Linked DNA regions of Homo sapiens: region 2 is linked to region 1. Evidence: fine-mapped expression QTL. Tissue or cell type: gastroesophageal junction. Region 1 holds a variant in brackets; the other region holds the start of a gene. All regions are shown on one strand. Distances are between the middles of the regions.

What was found. PIP is the estimated chance that this variant, and not a neighbour inherited with it, causes the effect.
Region 2: it holds the start of MIER2, and the variant in region 1 is fine-mapped to the expression of MIER2 in gastroesophageal junction (GTEx, PIP 0.92).

What each region holds. Positions count from the first base shown.
Region 1 is chr19:293,765-301,863 of GRCh38, forward strand. No RefSeq gene overlaps it. Among named protein-coding and RNA genes, the nearest start is that of PLPP2, 6.4 kb to the left of the region's middle. RefSeq lists an enhancer at 233-1,082. The variant G/A (reference allele first, on the strand shown) is at 3,261.
Region 2 is chr19:340,450-348,533 of GRCh38, forward strand. It overlaps MIER2 (MIER family member 2), which reads right to left and starts at 4,347. Exons shown (of 14, transcript NM_017550.3): 1 at 4,325-4,347. The coding sequence starts at 4,333. RefSeq lists enhancers at 678-1,265, 2,452-3,403 and silencers at 3,712-3,821, 4,122-4,171, 4,242-4,691.

The DNA.
Region 1 (8,099 bases):
GGGCAGAAGGGGGCCTGGCACACAGTAGGTGCCACCTAAGTGCAGCCAGCCACTATACCTGCCGTTGCTTTCTCTGCTTCTCTGGGACTTGAGAGGTGAAGTACCTTGCCCAGAGTCAAAACGGGAGTTGTCTCCCAGGTTCCTGGCACGGGGCTCTTGGAGTCGAACGAGTGCCCGTCAGTGGGTTTGACGTGCAGGCAGTGGGCAGGGAAGGCTGAGGGGGTGGATGGTTTGGAAAGACATCTAAGGTATCCCTCAGTCTCTGTCTGCATAAAGGCGGCAAGACAGTAGCTACCACCTGGGATTGTAGAGAAGATTAAATAGTTTGTGAAATGCTTGACCCAGGGCCAAACATTAGGAAACATCATTTGAGGGTTAATTGAACAAAATACAGTGTGGGTAGGTATCACGTGTTTGCTGGGTCAAGATGTAGAAGGTACTTCTTCCTGGGGTCAAGATTTAAAAGGGTTGGAAACCGCTGCCTTCAAATTCACAATCCAGGACCCACGAATTCAAAATTCCCCTCGGACTTTGCAATCCTTGGAGTGCCTCTTAATTTAGTGTAACCTTACAGTCAGTCAGGGACAGGGTAACCCTCCGGGTTTCAGCACCGCGAGTCTGCTGTGCTCTGTCTGTGAGGAGGTCTTCACTGGGTCACAGCAAAGAAAAACACACAGCAGTAGTGCTGGACGTGGTCGCCAGAGCCCCTCGCGCAGACAAGCCGGGACGCGGCCCCCCTGCCAGAGCCCCTCGTGCAGACAACCCGGAACGCACAGCCCCTCCCACCATCTCAGTCTGTGCGTTCGTTCACTGTCCCCGTCTCCTCCCACGAGCTCCAGGAAAGTGGGAGCTGGCACACAGTGGGTGCGCAAGCCGTGCTTACTGGGATGCCCAGAGCCTGAGGTCACCAGGGAGCTGACAGCTGCAGGGAGCTCTCCCTGGGTCACAGCAAGGCAAGACACACAAGCAACAGCGGAGGGCAACAGTGCGTTCTCAAAGGGAGAGCTGGTTTCCGCCTGCTTCTCGTACAAAACGAGGGGCAGAGATGGCAGGGGCCACCCCGCGAAACACTCGATTAAATCCCCGTTCACAAACCTTCCTGATGCCTGGCAGCCCTATCCCTGCCCCCGAAACCAGCATCTGGTGAAGGCAAGGAGAGGCACCTGGAAGACCTCAAATCTTTGCAGGTCTGCAAAGCCACTGAGCACCCACAGACCCCAAGGACCTGGTTCCGACTCAAGGAAGAACAAGGACGGTGGTGGCGGAGGGGCTCCAGAGAACTCGTAATGCCTCTGGTGAGGCCACCGCCGTCCTGCATCTCTTGATGTGACTGGTGACAGCCCACCAGGGCGGGGAACCGGTTCACCTCCCAAGTGCTCACCGGGGGCCGCGCTTTCGACTCTCCCTGCACAGGCCGTGGGTCGTGGCTCCGGGTGAGTGGAAACATTTGCCCCGCAGCGACCACCGCCCCTCCCTCCCCGACCTCGAGCCACAGGACCAGGGGACGGGGCTGGGCTGCGCTCTGGGCCCCGCGATGCCTCCGGGAGGCACGGCCGCCCTCTGCTGGACACGCCGAGGAGGCGCTCCACGCCAGGGTCTCAACATCCTCCTGAGAACAGCCCAGCAATGGGGCAAATAAACATCAAGGACCCCCTAGCTGAGTCCTGATACCTGTGAAACAAACAGGACACCCCGTTACATTTGAATCCCAGAAGAGCAACAAACCGGTTTTCAGTATGTGTCCCGAATACTGCATGGGACATACTTACACATTCGTTTATCTGTAATCCGAGCCCAACTGGGCATCCTGTATTTTATCTGGCCATCCTACCCAGGAACTACAAACCGAGAAAACAAGGACCATCAGGGAGAGAGAAACAGCTGGGTCAGGTCAGTGGGGGCCCAGACAGCGCCAGTCCAGGGCCCGGACATCTTCAACAAAGCCTGGGCCTGGGAGGCTGAGGCTCTGGGGACCGTGGCCGGTCCAGGACCATCAGTTCTGAGCGACTTTCTCCCTCCCCCACTTCCACCCCCACAGAAATTGTCTCAGGAGGGCTGATCTCCAGGCAGGCCCCTGGCTAACGCCTGCTTCCTGGCACGGCCATGGACTCTGTCCAGAACAGATTTCCATATTTGGTTAGCAGGTAGGAAGGAGGTCATCAAAGACCTTCACTTCACTGTAAAAGGAAAGCATTAAATAAACGAACACAAATGACTTTTATTTATGGCTGCCGAAAAGCTGAGGACAGTAAGTTTGTTCTAGAGAGGTATGAGCTCCCCTGAGGTTAGTCAAGACCAAGTCTGGTGGAGGCCTCATTAGTCCTAGGAGCCTGGTGTCAGACAAATCCGGAAGAGCCCCAAGGCACAGCGGGCCCTCCAGGTCCTCCTGCCTGGGTCTGGGCTGCAGGAAGGGCAGGATTCCACCACCCCACAGCTAACCCAGAGGCAAAGCTACGCTACACAAGCGGTGAGCAGGCCAGCCCAGCTCCTCGAGACCAGCACATCAACCCAGCTGCTGACAGGAGAGGGGCAAGCCCTTCCTGAGGCAAAACAGTATCCCCTCTGCTCCTTAACTGTCTTACCCACATCTAGTGCACCCTCAGAAACACAAGACACCATGGACAAGAACAGAATATTAGTCAACAATGGCATCCCAGGGTCTCTCCCAGCTCCAACCTATCTTAGATATTCCAGTCAAATCCAATCTCCCTAAAGCGTGACTCTACTTCAGCTAAAAAACACACTAAGGCTCCCCACTGCCTTCCCAGTTTCAGATTTCTTGGCCTAAGAGGGAAGTTGTTCCTGCACTGCCCTCCTGACCTCTGTGCTCACCCCACACAAATGGGACGCTCATGCCTCTGGGTGGCTGCGCCCGGCCTGCCCATGTGCTCCTCCCTCTTACTATTCCTTCTCCATGGGGCCTGCCCTGCTACCGAAGGGGAACAAGGGACCCTGGCCTGGCCAACCAGGAAACCCCTTCTGCTCGGCAGTTCCTGATTCAGTTATGGGCACGAGACCCAAGAACAAATTTTACCCAGGAGTTTTGTTAGAACAGTTGGGCAAGATACAGGCTTCCCACAGAAATCACAGATGTAAGGTTGTGTGCCTGGAGCTTCTGGTGCCATCTCAGTCGCCACAAAGGGCGCTGCCCCTGAGAAGAAGGTCAGTTCGGGCAGCAGAGAAATAGAAGCACCGAAACATCATAATGTGGATGGTGACTCCTGATTCCTGTTTCTGGAGGCCCTGGCATCCCCGGACTG[G/A]GTCTTAAGAGTATAACTTTCGGGCTGGGCACAGCGGCTCACGCCTGTCATCCCAGCACTTTGGGAGGCCGAGGAGGGCAGATCACAAGGTCAAGAGTTTGAGACCAGCCTGGCCAACATGGTGAAAGCCCGTCTCTACTAAGAATACAAAAATTAGCCGGGCGTGGCAGCGTGTGCGGTGTGGTGGTGTGCGCCTGTAATCCCAGCTACTCCGGAGGCTGAGGCAGGAGAATCACTTAAACCTGGGAGGCAGGGGTTGCAGTGAACTGAGATCACACCACTGCACTCCAGCCTGGGCAACAAAGCGAGACGCCGTCTCAAAAAAAAAAAGAAAAAGAAAAGGAAAAAAAGGGCTGGGCTCAGTGGCTCACGCCTGTAATCCCAGCACTTTGGGAGGCCGAGGCGGGTGGATCACCTGAGGTCAGGAGTTCAAGACCATCCTGGCAAACATGGTGAAACCTCGTCTCTACTAAAAATACAAAAACTAGCCGGGCATGGTGGTGGGTGCCTGTAGTCCCAGCTACTCGGGAGGCTGAGGCAGGACAATATCACTTGAACCTGGGAAGTGGCAGTTGCTGTGCGCCGAGTTCACGCCGCTGCACTCCAGCCTGGGCGATAGAGCGAGACCTCGTCTCAAAAAAAAAAAAAAAAAAAAAAAAGCAAAGCAATAGGATGACAATGATTTAAAGTAACTATTATTAAAAGGTTAAAGATTACAGAAGAAAAGATAGGGGCAAGGTGAGAAAATGGAGAATTTCAGCAGAAAAATTAAAAACACATAAGAGCACCTATTAAAATATACAATATGGGAAATAAAAATTTTGTGAAACAGACTAAATAGAAATCTGGAATATCAGAAAAGAGGATTGGTAGCATCAAAGACATGTCGATAGAAATTATTCAGAGGCCGGGCACACTGGCTCACGCCTGTAATCCCAGTACTTTGGGAGGCCGAGGCAGGTGGCTCACGAGGTCAGGAATTCAAGACCAGCCTGGCCAATATGGTGAAACCCCGTGTCTACTAAAAATAAAACAAAAATTAGCCGGGTGTGGTGGCGCACACCTATAATCCCAGCTACTGGGAAGGCTGAGGCAGGAGAATCGCTTGAACCCAGGAGATGGAGGTTGCAGTGAGCCGACATCATCGACATCATGCCACTGCACTCCAGCCTGGGTGACAGAGCAAGACTCCGTCTCCCAAAAAAAAAAAAAAAAAAAAGAAATTATTCAAACAGAAGCACAGAGAGAGAGAAAAATAAAAGAGAGAGCTGTGAGGCAACACCGAGGGTTGTAACATTAGTGACTGGAGAGACTGTGGGTCACCCATGGCCATGACACCAGTGACTGGAGAGACTGTGGGACACCCATGGCCGTGACACCAGTGACTGGAGGGACTGTGGGTCACCCATGGTCGTGACACCAGTGACTGGCGAGACTGTGGGACACCCAGGGCCGTGACACCAGTGACTGGAGGGACTGTGGGACACCCATGGCCGTGACACCAGTGACTGGAGGGACTGTGGGACACCCATGGCCGTGACACCAGTGACTGGCGAGACTGTGGGACACCCAGGGCCGTGACACCAGTGACTGGAGAGACTGTGGGTCACCCAGGGCCGTGACACCAGTGACTGGAGGGACTGTGGGACACCCATGGCAGTGACACCAGTGACTGGAGGGACTGTGGGTCACCCATGGCCGTGACACCAGTGACTGGAGAGACTGTGGGTCACCCATGGCCGTGACACCAGTGACAGTGACTGTGGGACACCCATGGCCGTGACACCAGTGACTGGAGGGACTGTGGGACACCCATGGCCGTGACACCAGTGACAGTGACTGTGGGTCACCCAGGGCCGTGACACCAGTGACTGGAGGGACTGTGGGACACCCAGGGCCGTGACACCAGTGACTGGAGAGACTGTGGGTCACCCATGGCCGTGACACCAGTGACAGTGACTGTGGGACACCCATGGCCGTGACACCAGTGACTGGAGGGACTGTGGGACACCCATGGCCGTGACACCAGTGACTGGAGGGACTGTGGGTCACCCAGGGCCGTGACACCAGTGACTGGAGGGACTGTGGGACACCCAGGGCCGTGACACCAGTGACTGGAGGGACTGTGGGTCACCCAGGGCCGTGACACCAGTGACTGGAGGGACTGTGGGACACCCATGGCCGTGACACCAGTGACTGGAGGGACTGTGGGACACCCATGGCCGTGACACCAGTGACTGGAGGGACTGTGGGTCACCCAGGGCCGTGACACCAGTGACTGGAGAGACTGTGGGACACCCATGGCCGTGACACCAGTGACTGGAGGGACTGTGGGTCACCCAGGGCCGTGACACCAGTGACTGGAGAGACTGTGGGACACCCATGGCCGTGACACCAGTGACTGGAGGGACTGTGGGTCACCCATGGCCGTGACACCAGTGACTGGAGGGACTGTGGGACACCCATGGCCGTGACACCAGTGACTGGAGAGACTGTGGGTCACCCATGGCCGTGACACCAGTGACTGGAGAGACTGTGGGTCACCCATGGCCGTGACACCAGTGACAGTGACTGTGGGACACCCATGGCCGTGACACCAGTGACTGGAGACTGTGGGACACCCAGGGCCGTGACACCAGTGACTGGAGAGACTGTGGGACACCCATGGCCGTGACACCAGTGACTGGAGAGACTGTGGGTCACCCATGGCCGTGACATCAGTGACTGGAGAGACTGTGGGTCACCCATGGCCGTGACACCAGTGACAGTGACTGTGGGACACCCAGGGCCGTGACACCAGTGACTGGAGAGACTGTGGGTCACCCATGGCCGTGACATCAGTGACTGGAGAGACTGTGGGTCACCCATGGCCGTGACACCAGTGACAGTGACTGTGGGACACCCATGGCCGTGACACCAGTGACTGGAGAGACTGTGGGACACCCATGGCCGTGACACCAGTGACTGGAGAGACTGTGGGACACCCATGGCCGGGACACCAGTGACTGGAGAGACTGTGGGACACCCATGGCCGTGACACCAGTGACTGGAGGCTGTGGGACACCCAGGGCCGTGACACCAGTGACTGCAGAGACTGTGGGACAACACCCAGGGCCGTGACACCAGTGACTGGAGACTGTGGGACAACACCCAGGGCCGTGACACCAGTGACTGGAGGGACTGTGGGACACCCATGGCCGTGACACCAGTGACTGGAGGGACTGTGGGTCACCCATGGCCGTGACACCAGTGACTGGAGGGACTGTGGGACACCCATGGCCGTGACACCAGTGACTGGAGAGACTGTGGGACACCCATGGCCGTGACACCAGTGACTGGAGGGACTGTGGGTCACCCAGGGCCGTGACACCAGTGACTGGAGAGACTGTGGGACACCCAGGGCCGTGACACCAGTGACTGGAGGGACTGTGGGACACCCATGGCCGTGACACCAGTGACTGGAGGGACTGTGGGTCACCCAGGGCCGTGACACCAGTGACTGGAGAGACTGTGGGACACCCATGGCCGTGACACCAGTGACTGGAGGGACTGTGGGTCACCCATGGCCGTGACACCAGTGACTGGAGGGACTGTGGGACACCCAGGGCCGTGACACCAGTGACTGGAGAGACTGTGGGTCACCCATGGCCGTGACACCAGTGACTGGAGAGACTGTGGGTCACCCATGGCCGTGACACCAGTGACAGTGACTGTGGGACACCCATGGCCGTGACACCAGTGACTGGAGAGACTGTGGGACACCCATGGCCGTGACACCAGTGACTGGAGAGACTGTGGGTCACCCAGGGCCGTGACACCAGTGACTGGAGAGACTGTGGGTCACCCAGGGCCGTGACACCAGTGACTGCAGAGACTGTGGGACACCCATGGCCGTGACACCAGTGACTGGAGACTGTGGGACACCCATGGCCGTGACACCAGTGACTGGAGAGACTGTGGGTCACCCAGGGCCGTGACACCAGTGACTGGAGACTGTGGGACACCCAGGGCCGTGACACCAGTGACTGGAGAGACTGTGGGACACCCATGGCCGTGACACCAGTGACTGGAGAGACTGTGGGACACCCATGGCCGTGACACCAGTGACTGGAGAGACTGTGGGACACCCATGGCCGTGACACCAGTGACTGGAGACTGTGGGACACCCAGGGCCGTGACACCAGTGACTGCAGAGACTGTGGGACAACACCCAGGGCCGTGACACCAGTGACTGGAGGGACTGTGGGACACCCAGGGCCGTGACACCAGTGACTGGAGAGACTGTGGGACAGCACCCAGGACAGGGCACATGTACCAAAGACCCAAAAGACAGAGTGGGACATCAGAAAAATTTGAGAAATACTCCTTCAGAAATGGAACTCTAAGAAAGCAAAAGAAAACAGAAATATCTGCAGAAATAACAGTCAAGACTTCAAAATCTGTTAAAATGCACCCACCCTCAGGTCGAAGTAGCTCAGTTTAGAAAGCTAGACCCAGGTGCATCACAAACGGCCAAAGTCCAAAAATAAAAGAAAATCATGTATATAGTCAGAAGTAAGAGATTTCACAGTAAGGAAAACAGAATGAGAAAATTCCTCATCAGAACAGTAGAAAACAGCATGAATAGAACCACCTTAACATGCGCAGAGAAAAACACAGTCCACTTAGAACCGTATATCCTGTAAAAATGCACTTCAAAAGAGGAGGAGGAATTAGGGCCTTTTGATCCACGTAAGAGCTAAGCCTAGGCAGAATGTCACTGCAGAGGAACTACAAGGCAATATATATTAAATACGGCACTTCAGACTCAAAGAAAATTATCCCTCTTGGCAACACGGA
Region 2 (8,084 bases), 47 kb after region 1:
ACAAAAAAAGTAAACTACAGAAAAAGTTATTAAGAAAATTGTAAGAAAGAGAAAGTGTATTTACTATTCATTAAGTGGAAGTGGATCATCCTAAAGGTCTTCGTCCTCATCATCTTCACGTTGAGTAGGCTGAGGAGGAAGAGGAGGGGTTGGTCTTCCTGTCTCGGGGTGGCAGAGATGGAAGGAAATCCATGTATAAGTGACCCATGCAGTTCAAACCCGTGAGGTTCAAGGGCCAACTGTACAGCAACGTACAGCAAAGCCACGGAAGGGAGCTGGGGCAGCCACTGGCCCTGGAGTGACTCTGGCAACAAGGCTGCCAAGGACCAAGGAGCACCTCAAGCTCTAAGTGGAGACTGACAGGACCCATCCAGCTTTAGAAAGTTTAGCTCCGTGGTGGCAGAGGGCAAACAGAAGACAGAGGGAAGGAAGAGCCAGCAGGGCCCCCAGGGGGAAGGGGCCACGGGACTGGAAGCAAGCAGCACAGAGTGCATGGCAGCTGCAGGGGCATCTCACGCCTCCTGCCCTGGGGTTGGCCTGGGTCTGGCAGAGATGGCCTCACCTCTTTCCAGGACACAGCAGGTGGCCACCAGCCCACAACCACTCTACACAGCCACACGCGGTGTGAAGCCACAGGGAAAGCATCCTAAGTGACCTCTGAAATCACCCTCAGCCCCCTCTAGGACCCTCTGGGTAGGGGTCGAGGACAGGTTCTCTGGGCAACGGTTCCTGCCTCAGTCAGGGGCTGGCTTTCTACTCCCGCAACCAGGAGCCTGACTAACAAGGGGATGGCAGGCGACCACATCAAATGAGGCCCCAGTCTGGACGGCAAGTTGACAACAGTCCCGCAGGCTTGAGATCCACACCGAGTAACAGGGAGTTAACATATGGCCCCAGGAGAGGTGGTCTGCAGGGTCTGAGGAGGATCTGGCCCTTATATGACGTGCCATTTAACAGGAGAGCTAAGGCAGAGGGGGGCAAAGAGGGAAGCGGCTGGGAACGGCAGAAAGGGCCGCTAACAGGGAGGCCCTGAGCAGCCTGGGATCCCCAAGTTCATTTCCAGGCGACTCTGAGTTCCTGGAACTTACCACGGAATACAGACTTCATGGATCTTCTTCCTCCCGCTGCCCCTGCCTGGTGTCCAGGTGCAAGTCTACTCTCAAAGCAGGTTCCCAGGGACTCTACTTCACTCACTCAGAACACTCTGCATGTTTCCCTCTGAGTTCACTCCCAGGAAAGACAAAGTCCTCTGTTTTGTCAAAGTGGAAGCAGGAAAAAGAGGGGGAGCAGGCCAACGGTATTCCAGGCAACAAAAAAAGCAAAGGAAGCGTAAACAGCATTCTAGAAACAAGGTCCAGAGGACAACAGGCCACAGACCCAGGCGTCCACCAGGGTCTTCAGGCAGTAGAAGCGGCAGCCAGCTACTCAACATAAAGACTGCACCAGAGGACTGGGTGCAGAGCACAGACCAGCCCTTCCCCCAGGGCAGCCCCCACAGGTATAGAGTGCACCAAAAACACAAGAGGCCACCCTGCAAAGCTTAACCCAAAATGACAGGGTGGCAGGTTCCATTCGCCAAGATGGCTGCACCTACCTCTCCCATGCCCCAAGCCCTCTCCCCAGTGTGACTGAAACAACCTCCTCCTAAGAGCCATGCTTGACCCTCCTCCCACCCACACCAACTCAAGTGCCAGGCGCTTGTTGGACTACCCAGCACCCCACTCCTCCGTCTGACCAATGTTCCCTGGGCGCCCACTCTGGGCTCAGCAAGGCAGTGGCGTGGTGGTTAACCTGAGAAACAAGTTCCACCTGCCTCCACCCACATGGAGTTGCTAGTTTTGGACACAGACAACAAACAAGTGGACATGTATGGTACCGAGAAGAGAAAACAGGGCGCACGGGCTCTGCAACTGCGGGTCAGGGAAGGCCTGGGGGGCCTCAGTCGAGGTGGAACCATCGTTGGCAGCCCCCAAATGGGTAGAGTGCACCAGCAAACAGGAGCCCAGGGCCCTAGAGTAGGGGGCAGATCCGTGGGGACCACCTCACAGGGCTGTGGGACTCAGCAAGGAGGAGCATTTTATCCCAGGGACCATGAAAAGCCATGGAGGGTTTTAGGTAGGAGCAAAAGATGGTGCTCTTAGGTTTTTAAAAGATCAATCTAGTATGCCTGAGAAAAGTATGAAGCATTCCCGTCTGCCACTGTGGTGCTTATGATTATTCTGGGATACTGATACAGAATAAAGTAGCTAGTACTGATCACGTGCTATAAAGTTACAAATTGCCACTTTTACGGGTTAAAAACAGTGGAATATCGTCAACTTCACAAGATTCAACTTCCATGTACAAGCCGTTGTGGCAGGACCTCATCAGACCTCCTAGCTCTGAAGGGTGACCATTAAACTTCCCATTTCAGAGATGAGGAAAAGGAAGTTCTGAGTCACTGGGCAACCTGCCCAAGACCACACAGAACAAGTCCGGTGGTCAGACAGCTTGCCATGGCTCCTCACGCTCAGCACCTCATACTTGTTGGTCCTAACCCACCCACGTCTCTCTCTGACCAGACTCTGCATCCCTGTAGGAGAGGCCCTGTCTGCTCCATTCACTCCCAGATCCTCAGGCCGAGGACAGAGCGGGACCTCCTTAGAAAATCAAATCAAATTCACTCAACAGGGCACCACCCCAAAGTGTAAAACAGGGTTAACAGGAGCAGCCGGACCACAAGCTGCTGTGCACATTTACGGAGCTCAGCCTAGAGCAGGGCAGAACAGCCACATGGCAGCTCTGGGGGAGGCTGGCTTGGGAGTCTGACTTGTGCCATCCCAGACACAGAGCTACCTGTCAGGCCACGTGTGTTGCCCAGATTCCAGGAGCACAACTCATTCGACCACCACGTCGCTGCAGGGCCACTGGGAGACGCGGCTTCTGCCTCCGACCCTGGAGGACAGCCACCATCTGCATGGGGACTCAGTCTCCCTAAGCGTCTCAAGAAGAACTAATTCTCGATGAAGGAACTGGCCGGTGGTCTGGCCTAGTATCGAGACACCTACACCGTCTTTGGCATAAACACAGGGCCTGTTACTGCCCCTGAGGTCGTCACCAGGGGGAGAGAATGGCCAGTCCTGCCTCCCACAACGCCCAAGACATAAACACGCAACGTGGCACCACGGCCAGGCCGCAGTTCCAATCCCGGCTTCCCACGAGGCGGCTGTGCCTGGCTGGGTGGGCACCTTTTCCTTTGGGCTCTATCCCAGAGATAGGATCAGCTCTTGAGTCTGCCCGCCTGTCGTAACTTCTGCGCACAGAAGTCATGCACTGAGTCCCACTGACTGAGCACCTCGCAGCCGCCGCACCTTCACCTACATTATCTCTTTCCATCTTCACCAGGGCCCTCCAAGGTGAAAGCAAGTCCACACAGGCTCATCCACCACTCCAAAATCAAAAAAAGCTTCAAAAGCGAAAGTTTCTTCCTTCCTGGTTTGACCTGACACGAAGCTATCTGTTGTCTTATCCTAGACAGTCCTAGGTGGGTTTGATCAAACATCACAGTCCAAAATCCCACAGATCCTCAAATTGGAAAAATTCTGGATTCCAAAATATAGCTGGTCCCAAACATTTCAGATAAAGGGTCCCGGGCTTGTTTCCTGGACGAGGGAGGAGGCTCCAGAAGTAACTTCGTGCCCGGGAGAGGCTGGTCCAACTCTTCTGAGATCAGCCCCGACGCTCTCTAGGCCCCGGCAGACCCACCCACCCTGCGCCCAGTTCGCGCCAGGCGGGTCCGCGTCGGGAGTTCAAATCCCGCCCGGGGTCTGACCCAGCCCCGCCGGGGGGCTCGCGGGCGGCGGAGGCGCGGTGGGTCCACCGGGATCCCGATGGGGAGCGCGGGGCGCCTGGCGGCCCCAGCACTCGGCAAAGTTGGCAAAGGCGCGGGAGGGGAGGCCTGCGCGCCGCGGGGCCCGGGCCGGGGCCGGGAACCGGAGCCGGACCCTGGAACGGAGCCGCGCGCCCACCGGACCCCCGACACCAGCCCCGCCCCGCGTCCCTCCCCTCCCCCACCCCGGCCCCCGCCCGCCCCGCGCCGCCGCGCATGCGCACTGCAGCCCGCGATGTGGCAGCCGGGGGAGTTGGGGGGTGGGGGCCGGCCGGGGGCGGCCGCCGATGGAGCCCCGCGCCCCTCCGGCCCCGGACGGGCCAGGCGCCCCGGCCGGCCTCAGAGCTCCAGAGCGGGGCTCTCCGTCCCTGGGGCCCACGACGAGGCCGAGCCACGGCGGCGGGGGGCGCGGACGCGCGGGGGCGGGGGGCCGGCTCCCCCGGCCCGCTCACTCACCTCCGCCATGGCCGTGTGTGCGCGGGAGGCGGTGGCCGCGCCGGGATCCCCGGATGAGGGGCCGCGCACTCATTGGCTGTGGAGCCTGGAGGGCGGGGCAGGGGGCGGAGCCTGGAGGGGGCGGAGAGCGGGCCGGGCGCGTAGTAGGTGCGCGGGCGCGGGCGCGGGCGCGCAGCCGAGCGTGGCCGGCGGCTTCTGGCGAGCTTGCGGTGTCTTTCCGGCCGTCTCTGCTGGACCCTGATCTTGGCCTTGGCCTTGGCGGAGGAGACTGCATTCCATAAAAATACGAATTCCTGATAATCACACCTGCGTGGGGACCACGTGGTCCTGTGTGACCTCTTCATTCCCTCGGCTGCTCGCTGTTAATACCCCGCGTGGCAGACTAGGAAACTGAGGCCCAGGGCGACGGGCCACCCAGAGTGTCAGTGATAGAGCCAGAATTGGTGTCCGGGCTGCGTGGTTCTGGAATTTTCTGCACTTTCGCACCCGTGATGAGCAAACTAGCGCGCGGAGGAACCAATCGGGGAGCTTGCGAACGCGCACCAGTCGGAGAGGTTTTAGAAACGGTGGCCCCGCGCCGGAGAGCCCAAGGCGGGAGGCAGGGAGGTGGGCTTGACCCCAGGGCCATTTGGTTCTGCAGTCCGTCGTTTCGCAGATTGAACATTTCTGGAACACGTGCACGTTCTGATCCTGAGGGTTTGAAGGAGACAGCCCTAACGCCTGTCTTCAGGGCGTTTAGAGTGGAGGATGGGAAGGCAAGGACTCGCCACACCTTAAATTTGAGACGGATAAGTGCCGTGAATCTTCGGGGCGCACGATGCAGAGAGAGGATAGGAAGCAGGGGTGGGGCGTGAAGAGGCAGGGGCCAGGTGGGAGCTGTGGGGCCTGGACCAGAGTGCAGAGAGACTTGAGAAGGTGGACACCACAAGACTCGCTGATGGAGGGAAGCTGGAGAGAGTGAAGGATGGCCTCCAGATGTCTGGCTTGCGCAAATGAGTGGAGGGCGGTTCCTACTGAGACCAGGAAGAAGAGAACTGGAGACCAGGAAGAAGGGAATTGGGGACCAGGAGGAAGGGAATTGGGGACCAGGAAGAAGAGAATGAGTCTCATTCCTGTTTCCCAGTGATCAGCCAATGAATAGTGAGAACTTGACATGCATCAGCCTTGATTCCTGATGCAAAATCATTACTCAGTCCTCTGAGAATTCACCAACCAAGAGATAGAAGAACCACTCTGGAGGGGTCTACCCTCACTCCTTTTTTGGTTTACATCATTGAGATTGAGGGTTCTGGCCCTCGTGTTGAAGAGTCCTCACTGATTTGTGCAAGAGTTGGTTCCTTCCTTTATTATTCATTTGTTATTATTCATTCAGTCATTCAGTGAACTAAACACATATCTTATGCAGTCCTCAACTGGGTGCTGGGTAGCCAGAGGTCCTGTGAAGCAGGGAGAAGCATGAACAGATAAGAGAGTGAGGTGCTGTGCTGTAACAGGTGGAGGGGCCCGAAGACAAGGGCTTGAGTCCACCTGGCAAAACGAGGGAAGACTCTTAGGAGAGGGCTTGGCAAGAATCATCACATAGATGTCAAATGAGGACTTGGGTGAAGAGAAGGGTATTGTGGCTTGGAACGGTGACTCACACCTCTAATCCTAACACTTGGGGAGGCAGAGGCAGGAGGATCACTTGAGGTCAGGAGTTTGAGACCAGCCTGGGCAACAGGGTGAAACCCTGTCTCTACTAAAAATACAAAAATTATCCGGGCGTGGTGGCGAGTGCCCATAATCCCAGCTATTCTGTGGAGGCTAAGGCAAGAGAATCACTTGAACCTGGGAAGGCAGAGGTTGCAGTGAGCTAAGATCACTGCACTCCAGCCTGGGAAACAGAGTGAGACACTGTTTCAAAAAAAAAAAAAAAAAACTTTAAACATTAGAGGGCATGACGATAATGTGCCTGTAGTCCCAGCTACTCTGGAGGCCGAAGTGGGAGGATCTCTTGAGCCCAGGAGGTCGAGGCTGCGGTAAGCAGTGATTGTGCCACTGCACCCCAGCCTGGGCAACAGAGTGAGACCTGTCTCAAAAAAAAAAAAAAAAAAGAGTGAAGGATATTTTAAGGTCTGAAAGTCTGTCTCCGTAGACTGTTAGTCGCAGTGGAGAAATGAAGCCACTTGTTGGGTGGGTGATAAAACTCAGCATCCCTGGTAAAGGGCAGGTGCACACCATGTGCACCTGGATGTGGTGTCCAAAGCAGGACACGGCATCACTGAATCCAGCCAGCAATGCACAACCCATATCTACATATGAGGAAATTTCAGACAAACCCAAATAAGGAATATTCTGTTAAACAAAAGAGGGACTGTATTCTTCAGAAATGTTAATGCCACAATGGGGCGTGGTGGCGGGTGCCTGTAATCCCAGCTGCTCAGGAGGCTGAGGCAGGAGAATCACTTGAACCCGAGAGGCGGAGGTTGCAGTGAGCTGAGATTGCGCCACTACACTCCAGCCTGGGCGACAAGAGCAAAACTCCATCTCAAAACAAAACAGGCCAGGCGCTGTGGCTCACACCTGTAATCCCAGCACTTTGGGAGGCTGAAGCAGGAAGATCACGAGGTCAGGAGTTCAAGACCAGCCTAGCTAGCATGGTGAAACCTGATCTCTACTAAAATAATACAAAAAATTAGCCGGGCGTGGTGGTGCACACCTGTAGTCCCAACTACTCGGGAGGCTGAGGCAAGAGAATCGCTTGAAACCGGGAGGTGGAGGCTGCAGTGAGCCGAGATGGCACCATTGCATTCCAGCCTGGGCGACAGAGCAAGACTCCGTCTCAAAAAAAAAAAAAAAACCACAGCGACAACAACAAAAAAAAGTTAATGCCAGAAAAGATAAACCTGTGTAAATCTTTTTTTTTTTTTTTTTTTTTTTGAGATGGATTCTCGCTCTGTTGCCCAGGCTGGAGTGCAGTGGCACAATCTTGGCTCACTGCAAGCCCCACCTCCCGGGTTCACGCCATTCTCCTGGCTCAGCCTCTGGAGTAGCTGGGACTGCAGGCATGTGCCGCACCTGGCTAATTTTTGTATTTTTAGTAGAGATGGGGTTTCACCATGTTGGCCAGGATGGTCTCGATCTGTTGACCTCGTGATCCACCCACCTCACCCTCCCAAAGTGCTGGGATTACAGGCGTGAGCCATAGCACCCGGCCAGTACGGAGGGTTTCTACTATACTCATTCTTGCAATTATTCCATGAGCATAAAATGAAGTAAAACTCAGAAAATAAAGAGCAGCGAATCTTGAGCAGGGAGCTTAAGGGGAGAGGCTGGAGAGGGTGCCCCTGGCCGTGGCACAGTGGTTTGAGTGGACACCTCACGTTGGAGGAGATACGCCTGCATGTGCCTCCACTCCAGGCTCCCTGTTTCTTCTCTGCCTGGTTTTCATGGTCACCGGGCAGCTCCCAAGTTTGACAGAGGCATGGTGTCCCGGGATGAGGGTCCAGGTCACCGCATCGCTACACCTCTTGGAGCAGATGGAGACTGCGTGGTGGAGCTGGGGGTGATGAATCCATTGCAGCCCCGAGGCGGGGAGGCAGGGGACGCTGTAGTTCACCCAAGCAGTGTCGTTCTTGCAAATTTTCCCTAGAAAAAAGAGGCCTCACAAGATACTGGAGGAGCTGTGAGTAGTGCATGGGGTGGCCTGTGGTGGATGCTGGGTGCATCATCAAACCCTCCCCTACACAAGCACTAACTTCCCCCTCTGCTCAGGGTCAAG